2 separate regions of the Homo sapiens genome follow, and region 2 is linked to region 1. The links come from fine-mapping of genetic effects on gene expression. Tissue or cell type: whole blood. Region 1 holds a variant in brackets; the other region holds the start of a gene. All regions are shown on one strand. Distances are from middle to middle.

Evidence for each region. PIP is the estimated chance that this variant, and not a neighbour inherited with it, causes the effect.
Region 2: RBM47 starts here. The variant in region 1 is fine-mapped to the expression of RBM47 in whole blood (TOPMed, PIP above 0.99). The same link has a PIP of 0.9 or more in monocytes.

What each region holds. Positions count from the first base shown.
Region 1 is chr4:40,424,175-40,428,971 of GRCh38, reverse strand. RBM47 (RNA binding motif protein 47) reads left to right here. Exons shown (of 7, transcript NM_001098634.2): 7 at 2,829-4,797. The coding sequence ends at 3,068. RBM47-AS1 (RBM47 antisense RNA 1) reads right to left here and starts at 2,839. Exons shown (of 2, transcript NR_199039.1): 1 at 2,790-2,839; 2 at 1,390-2,184. RefSeq lists an enhancer at 2,351-3,550. The variant A/G (reference allele first, on the strand shown) is at 2,979.
Region 2 is chr4:40,627,971-40,632,767 of GRCh38, reverse strand. It overlaps RBM47 (RNA binding motif protein 47), which reads left to right and starts at 2,904. Exons shown (of 7, transcript NM_001098634.2): 1 at 2,904-3,372. RefSeq lists enhancers at 3,041-3,110, 2,293-3,170, 3,171-4,047.

The sequences.
Region 1 (4,797 bases):
AGACTTCAGTTGACCGCGGGTAACTGAAACCATGGAAAGCAAAACCAAGTGCTTCCCCATATATTCTCATTTTACAGATAAGAAAATTAAGGCCCAGCAAGGAGACAGAATTGCTGGCCGGGAGTAGAATTGGGATTGGGAGATCAGATGCCTGATCTCTGCATGCTTTGTCCTTATAGTGTGGTGAATGCTATCATAAAAGGGACATCACATGAATGAAAAGAGAAGCCATGGGTTTGGGGACCTACTCTTGATTCCAGGCCGTAAGCCAGTGCATGTCTATGTGCAAAACTTGGTGTTGGAGTGGGCAGCCTGAACCCAGGTGTTGGGCCGTCCTGTAGCACATGGAAAGGTCTCTCTCACATGTTGCCTTCCCTGCCATTTCCTCTCCCTTTTTGCACTGGTTATTAAACCTACGTCCACACATGTGGAAAAGGTGACTTGTGTCTTGCTGTGAACCACAGTCTTTCCAGTTCTGGAGCTCCTCTCCCTGGTTGTAAAATGTCACTGATGAGACACTCATTGTTTAGGGTTGTAAGAAGCAAGTTAACGTAAGGCTAAAAGTGCAGGCTCCAGAGTCACACATTGCATTGCTTAAAAGCTGTGTCACTTTGTGCAGGTCATTTAACACTTCCACACAACTCCATATAATCATAGTACCAACTCTACTGGTGGCTGTGATGATTCAATACTGTCATACAAATAAGGCACTTAGAATAGTGCCTGAGTTTGGGGGTTTGTTTTGTTTTGTTTTGTTTTGTTTTGTTTTGTTTTGTTTGAGACAAGGTCTCACTTCCATTGCCCAGGCTGGAGTGCAGTGGTATGATCCCAGCTCACTGCAGCTTTGAATTCCCAGGCTCAGGTGATCCTTGCACCTCAGCCTCTTGAGTAGCTGGAACTACAGGAGTACGCACCGCCATGGCTGGCTAAGTTTTGTATCTTTTGCAGAGACAAGGTTTCGCCATGTTGCCCAGGCTGGTCTCGAACTCCTGGCCTCAAGCCATCCTCCTACCTCAACCTCCCAAAGTGCTAGGATTACAGGCATGAGCCACCTCACCCAGCCTCTGAGTTATTAATTGTTATAATTATCATTATAATTATAAATTAAAATTATTATAAATTATAATTACTATTTGATTATAGTTTTAAAAAGTAATCTTAGGCTAGAAGTTCCTAAGTTCCTTTGAGCACAATTTTGGAACTCTGATTTGCAAATTTTGTAACAGAAATTAGAGCTAATTCCTTTATAAAAATCCAGGAAGAAATAATTATTTTAATTCACCATTTCACATATGCTGAATTGTTTATTTTGAAGATGTATTAACATATAGGGAGACCATACCAGCATTTACTACCAGGCATTCTATGGCTCATGAGGTGCACCAAATATTTTGTTAAATGAATGTTTTATTTTATTCAGAATCTCTTTTCAATGAAGCATCTCACAGAACTAGTTCCATGGCAAACACTTTGGGAAATACTGAACCACAGTCTTCCCATTCATACTCCTGTTTGTTCTGAAAACATCTTATGTTGCACTTTCAAGTAGACAGAAGGAAGTAGCAGGGGCTTTTCTAGAGCCAGTGGTGGCCGTCAACAGTTCAGGCAACTTTACTTAGCTTGTCCTTGCCCACTTCTTCCTCATTTGGAAACTGCTCTTTATCCTTCAAAACTCAGCTCGAATATCCCCGCTGCTGAGACATTTTCTCCAACTTCCCCATTAGTTGGTTCTTTCTCTAAGCTTCTACAACAATTTGTATACATTAATGGTGTCATCTCTTAGGTGGGAGGTGATGGAAACCATCACATTGGCTGAAAATTGTGTATGGTCACAATTTTTTAAGGTCACAGCTTAAGAAGCTGTCCCTTTGGAGATCAGTATATTTGGTTTCTCTAAGTTGACACAGTCTGTTCCTCTCTCTGTCTCTGAGACAGATCATATTCCATCAGTTAAGTATGAGTTGAGGCAGCTGGCATGTATCTAGAGGCCATGTTTAAGGAAAAACACTGATTTTTAATTACTGTGAAATCAATTGTGTGGATGGTAGATTCTCCGCTGCCTTCTCTAGCTCACTCTGGGGCATAGACTGATTGAGTGGAATGGTAAGTAGAAGATTCCGGAATACAGTACAGAGAAGGTCCTCCTTATCCGCAGTTTCTGCATCTGGATTCAACCAACCGTGGCTTGAATAAAGACAATAAAAAATAACAATACAACAATAAAAAAATACAAATGTCAAAATACGATATAACAACTATTTACATAACATTTGCATCATATTAGGTATTATAAGTGATCTAGAGATTATTTTTAAAGTGTATGGGTCCCAAGACTTTGGGAGGCTGAGACAGGAGGATTGCTTGAGGCCAGGAGTTCAAGACCAGCCCTGGGCAACATAGTGAGACCTTGTCTCTATGAAAAAAAATTTTTTTACAGTATACAGGAGGATGTGCATAGGTTAAATGCAAATACGCCATTTTCTCTCAGGGACTCGAGCATCTGAGGATTTTGGTATCCACGGAGGTCCTAGAGCCAATCACCTGTGAGGATACTGAGGGGCAACTGTATTTCACCTTTCCCTCAGCCTTCCAGGCCTCTCACTTTCACAAGGTGGCATCACTGAGTTTGAGGATGCAGCTCCACCTTACCTCTTCAGTGGCTCTTCTCCCACTTGCTTACAATAATTGCTGTTTGCCCGCCCCTCTGCCTTTCTCTCCCTTGCTTTTGTGTCTTTGTATTCCCGTCTTCTGGGAGAGGCTTGTTGAATGAATGGATGATAGGTACATACACGTGTTCAGGAAGGCTCCTTTTTGTCTCTTCTCCTCAGGGCCGCCCAATAACTCCAGTATACACGGTGGCTCCAAACGTTCAGAGAATTCCTACTGCCGGGATCTACGGGGCCAGTTACGTGCCATTTGCTGCTCCAGCTACAGCCACGATCGCCACACTACAGAAGAACGCGGCAGCCGCGGCCGCC[A/G]TGTATGGAGGATACGCAGGCTACATACCTCAGGCCTTCCCTGCTGCTGCCATTCAGGTCCCCATCCCCGACGTCTACCAGACATACTGAGGCTGGTGACCAGCACGAAGACAGACCACACAAACACCACTGAAGGAACGCTTGACTATTTATGAAGAAGGAACATGTTGGATTCACACATGCAACCTGAAAGTGAAGAATGTTAGCAGATTTATTTCTGAATTATTTTATATACATGAAGTTTTCACTAGTTTTTTAAGACTATTTTCAACTTAGCATGCCTACGTTCATACATTTCCAAAAGACTTGCAATGGTTCGTGCCTTCATTCCATCTTTTAAAAATTTGTATGCTGTACTACATTTGTATAGAGGTTTTTGTTGTTGTTTTTTTAAGGATATATTTTCAGTATGAAGGTTATTTTCTTAACTTCTGCACTCCAGAGATTTCTATTTTGTAGTACCTTCAATAATATATCAACTATATATTAAAAAAGCACACTTGAGGAGCTAGGGAACTATTTTGAAAAATATATACAATATTTAAAGATACAAACAGTAGTGCTTAAAAATACTACATAAAGCATTATTTTAAAGGTTATACTGGAAAGTGCAATTTTAAAATGAGTAAAACCTCTGTATTTCTGCTGGCATTAAGGGTTGATGGTGTTACCATGTATCATCATGGCGGTACTATTTTTTAAAAGAAATTAAACACTGGATCTCTCCTTAAGCCAACATTGAAAAGACTTGCCGCACTTCTGAGTCCAAACACTGGAAAGCTCTCCTTTGCCACCGTTAGCCGGGGCTCATTCTCCATGTGCCTTAGCCTTAAACATGCCCCCACTCCCACATCTCTCACCCTGTCCCCTCCTCCCCAGATTCCCAATCCCACCGCAATGTTTGGCAAGCCTAGGACTGATAAGTAGCTCTGATAGAGGAGCTGGTGGCTTTTATACTTCTTCCTGGGTTTTTGTTGGGGTTTGTTGTTTCGTTGTTTTTTGTTTTTTTTTTTGTTTGGTTGGGGAAGTATTGTCTTCTACGTGTGCTATTTTCAGTAGCAGAGTAAGCACAAGGTTTTAATCGAGTTGCATAAGACACCTTTGCATAGCTATTTAATTGCCCAATGTAAAACTTTAATGCCATTTCTAATGCTTTTATTCATTTTTGAAGTATGAGTTTGTAGGGACAAAGAATGTATGTTATCGTAGACAAGACCCCCAGAGACTCTTTTCAGCAGAAAGTTATGCTTCTAGTTGCCTTACCATGTTTCTTGCAAAACTGTCCATGGTCCTCAAGGGTGTTGGAAACATTATGTTTATTAAATGGGCCTCTCTTCCTTTGCTGTGCACTTGATGGGTGAACTGGATTGGGGTGTGCACATCCAGGAGGAGGAGGAGAGACCTGTAGAAGTTTAAAGATAGTTTGTAAATATCTTCTAATGCTTGTTTTTAGTCCTTTTATGTTGGAGAAGTTCATGGTATGTAGTTTAATGCAAAATGAAACCATTTTATTTCAATGTTATTAAAAAGGTTTGTTTTATTAGGAAGTTAATGTATTGTTGCAGTGTTTTGTGCCTGTTTAAAGGCTTTTGTTTAGCAGAGTGAATGTAAAATACAGTAAAATGTTAAGATTGTCATCTACTTTTTAAAAAAAAATATCAACTTGGAATTGTTTTTTAAAGGCTCAATCAAGGAAGTGAGGTGTGCAATAAGGTAGCAAGTAAAACGCAGTTGCGTTTTTATGTCATGTTAGAGATCCATACAATTTTCCACTCACGGGATTTTTGTTGATGGCTGAATTCTTGTGGATTCATAAGAG
Region 2 (4,797 bases), 200 kb before region 1:
TATTTATGTGTTTATTTTTTTTTTTGAGACGGAGTCTTGCTCTTTCGCCCAGGCCGGAGTGCAGTGGCGCGATCTCGGCTCCCTGCAAACTTCACCTCCCGGGTTCAAGCCATTCTCCCGCCTCAGCCTCCCGAGTGGCTAGAATTACAGGTGCCTGCCACCATGCCCAGCCAATTTTTGTATTTTTAGTAGAGACGGGGTTTCGCCACGTTGGCCAGGCTCATCTGGAACTCCTGACCTCAGGTTATCTGCCTGCCTCGACCTCCCAAAGTGTGGGGATTACAGGCGTGAGCCACCGTGCCCAGCGAGAATGTCCCCTCTAGAATCCTTCAGCTCAGACAGTCTGTGACAGCGAGCCTTTTTTGAGGCCATAATCCAGATACTTCTGGAAAAGAAAAGAAAATTTCAGGCTAATATGGAGCTGGGTTTTTTAGTTGTCTTAAGGGGGTGGAGCCGTTGTTTGTGCCTGGCAGCATCAACCCTTAGGTCTGGTGAGGGAACTTAGCTAAGAGAGTTCCCACTGCCTGCTGTTCACAGTACATGCTGGCTGGTATCGACAAAGAATGAACCTAAAACACAGGAAATGTTGAATTTGTCTGGGTTAAATTTTGCCTCATGAGAAGATAAAAGATCAGAAGGATTTAAAATGTTCCAGAATGCTTTGCTGGTTTTAAGGAATCATTTTTCCCAAAGGTGGCAAATGCTGCTTTTTAAATTTATGGTTTTCTTGATACCCCTTCAGCCTTTGTTTCTCTCTCTTAGGACTACTACTTTTTAATTAATTTTCACTTAACTTTCCAATACTGATGAAATAAAGAAAAATGAGGGTTATTTATATATATTTTAATAAATCCAGTTTGATTTTTCAACTTAAAAAAAAATTAACTAGAACTGAGAACCAGTCCTGGCCTCACCACCTTGGACTTACACTTAACCTGTGTGATCTCAGTGTCTTCATCTGCAAAATGGGGACAAAATAGCTCATAGGATCATTTTGTAAGGATCACATAAAGTAAGAAGGGTGAAAGTGCTCCATAAAGTAGAAAGGGCCTCACTAATGGAAAGGGATTATGATTTCTTTCTTTAAATGTGAAGTTAAATGGAGGATAAAGGGTGGAGGCACTGATAACATTTTAGCCTTCAATAATCACTTTTTAATATTTATGAGGAGTTTCAAAATCATTTCCCTCTCTTTCATACTGCTTTTCAAACGGCAAGGGTCATTATTTGTCCGGCCCAGTCTGGGATAAGTAACTATCCCAGGGTAAGACACCAGGTCAAGTGCCAAAATACAAATGAGAATTAAGCATAGCAGATGGGTGATTGCTGGGCCCTGAATTTCCTTCCCGTTAGTGAGCTTCATGGAATGCAGGCAAATTTATCTCCATTTCTGTTGTCAATCTTGTAACTTTTAAGTGAGATGAAATTCAGTTGGCTACCCTTTACAGGGACTTTATTTCCCATTGTATTCAAGACTGTCAGCAATGAATATAAACTGTTTGTAAAAATCCCATCGTTAGAATCTTCCAGAAACTGAGGCTGGGAGAGATTAAATATCTTGCTCATGGCCTCACAGCTGGTGAGTGGCAATGCTGGTGCTACAGCCCATGTCTAACTCTGACCACACACTCTTCTTCAGAAAAAAGCCATAATGTAAATAATAATAAGAAGAATAACAACAACAATAACGGCAGCTAACACTGTGTGCTAGGCACCGTTCTAAGCTCTTTGCATGTGTTAACTCAACCAGCAAAGAACCATTTTTGGAACATTCTTTCACTAAAGTAGCCCGGTATTTTTTTCTTTCCCCTCAGCTGAATGACACTGCAACCCGAAATCACAACTCTGTTTTAGGTTCCTGGTGGTGCCTGCTTCCTCTTCTAGTTTGTTTAGTCACAGAATTCGATTCCTGTTGGCCCATTCCGCGCCTACAAACAGGCTTAGCGCTCCACTGAAATGCGGGAGGCTCCTTAACTCTTGTATAAACAGGTAAGGCGGAGGGGGTGGGGCGCGGATTGCGGACATCTGGGTTTCTTGGGAATTGGGATGGGGTGGGGGTTCGAGCCAACTCCCCAGAGAGCAGGCAAGGTGAAGCGAGGGCTTGGCTGCTGTTTCTAAATGCAGTGTTTTTTTGTTCCCTTTCTAGAAACCCTCCGTAACTCTAGGTCAGAGCGCACTAAAATGAGCCACTTCTGAACGAGCAGCGCCCAGGCCCCAGGCCCTGCTGCGAAGGCCCCGGCAAAGGTCAGGGCCCCGTCCGCGTGACGCTCCTGCCTGCGCGCGGCCAAGCCATGCTCGGCCCCAGGTAAGGACGCCCCGGGAGCTCGCCCCGGGAGCTCTCCCCGGGCACGCGGGGGTCGCAGAGATCCCACCTCGTCCAGCGACTTGTTTATGGGGGGAAGAAGGGGAGCGGGGCGGTTCCGATCGGCTTGAAATTCAGCAGCAGGTTCCTAATTTCTCCAACGTGGTTCTGGCTGGGTTTCTCGGAGCAGCCCGAAGGGGGCCGAGCGTCTGACTCGGACAGATGCCCCCAGGTGGAGCAGGTGCCACTTCTGGGTGTCTGAAAGGCATGTGACTTTTGGGGCGGGGAGAGAAGTCCGTCTGGTCAAGTCCCCCAATCTCTGCCATCAAGGCCGATTTTCTTTGAACCTTCAGCAAAGGTATCTGCGCTCCTAAAAAACAACAGGAATGTGGCACTGGCCTTTAGCCAGGGGAGGCTCAGCCAGCAGGATAAAATTTCAGGGCAGATTTACGGGAAGTTGCCGGTGTTGGGAGTAAAAATCTGGTTTGGTGAGTTTAAGGGAAGGGAGTAGACGAGAGACAACCTTGCTACTGTGAGGCGGATGGCCTCGGCAGGGGGCGGGCGGCGGGAGGAGAGAGGGAGGGAACCGGGAAGGGCCCGCAGACTAGACGCTGAGCGCTCCCGTGCGCAGCGCCCCACGCAGCCGGGACGCGGCGCCGCTCTGCGGGTGGAACCGCCGCGCGCTCCCGGCCTCGGGAGCTGAGCCCGAGAGAACTTCGCTGCCTTCGGGTCGCCGCTCCCGCTTTCCACTGTGGAATGTGCAGCTTGGGATAGAGAGAAACCAGGGTTTGGGGAGCGGTCCTCCTGGAGACTTTCTCTCTGCAAGTCTCCAAGGTTAAGCAATTCTGACCCACTGGAATTCCCAGAGCCTGGGAGTTAAGCCTAAAACGCTCTGTTGCTTTAAGCGGCGCGGTGGGGAGTCGCTGGACACTCCTTATTTTGGTTTTACATTAAAAAGAAGGCGGACGAGAAGATGTTGTAGGTGACTTCCTAGCTGTGTTAAGTTGCTCCTGGGCTGTGAATGGTGTTAATTTCTGAAGTGGGCGGCTCCAAAAACTTAACAAGGAAAGGTAAGGTGGTTTTTGGTAGTCCTTCTAACTATTGTCCCTTAATCTTACATTTGGGTCCCAATTTTTGAAGTGTATATTTTTTTCTTATTCTTCTCTCTTTAGCTCTTATCCCTCATGCTATCACTCATCTTCTGTCTCTTGGTATATTTAGTGGGAAATAAAGGGTTTATAAAACGGTTTTAAAAGGGTCAACCTCTGGGAAGGCAGATAATCATATACAGTCAGTCCCATCGTGTTTCCTGTAGTGATGAATCTTTTCCCATAAAAGAAACTGATTTTTTTTTTTCACTCTTGAAAATACATGATTGGACCGCCCAGAAGCACAGGTGACTTTAGACTCAGATTATTACAGTGAGACTGAGGAAGCGTCCTGGACAGGAGGCATCTCATTTAAGTGTTAACCAAGGCAGAGGGGGGTCTTCCTGCAGTAATTTACGTCTGAAAGTAACACTCGGTAGAGGTGTAGTTGTTTCAAATTAAAAATTCAGCCTGTAGAAAAGGGTAGGACTGACGAATTATGACATCTGACAAATTAGCAGTTGACCGGATATTTAAGAAATCAGATAAAATAAATGGAAGTGGAATTTTTCAAATAAATGACTCATTTTTTAATTAGGTAAAAGTTCAGCCACTCTTGGGTACTGTCCCAAGGCATAAGTGATAGGAAGATACCATCTTCAAGGTACTTACAGGCCATTACCGACCTGAACTAAAAATCAAACCTTTTTTTTTTATCTGGTGGTATTTTAATGACTCACTGTTTTCTTTAGCAGGAATATAGATTTTAAAATGTATTCTTTAAAAGTTTTAAGGCAAGGTCATACGAATTTCTCAGGGGAGGGAAAGCAAAGGGTTGACAACCCAACATGAAGGAGTTGCCGAAGTTTTGAGCTCAAAAGGTTGGCAATTAGATCCAGAGCATTTGAGAATTGCAGGTGCCGATTCTAAAAGGTGAAAGGTGGTCAGCGGCGTAACACACAACCTCTAGATAAACCAAAGTACTCAACCTAGAGCATAAGAAGAGATCACTTTGTGGGAGTTTGTGTTGCTATTAATTTAAACAATGATCTTTGTTAGATCAATGACTTGAAGTCTTGGAGGGAACTAAAATCAACCCAGTCTGAAAGGAAAACAGAAGGAAAAAAAGAAAGGAGGAGATGGTTTGGTTTTTAATATTTTTTTCTGGTCTGCTTTACCCTTCACCTTGTTCTGATATACACACTGTTGGCCTCTTTGACTTAATTATTGCATGCTGGAAGGATGGGGTCTCAGAAATTTCCCAAGCACCTAGCTTCATTATTAACTTTCAGTATGTGTCAAATGAAGAAATAAGCCTAGCTGTGCCGTCCTTTACCTGGCTAGGTAGGCCATGCTTTAAATTAATTAGATCAAGATATTCTGAATATCAATCAATTATTAAAGATT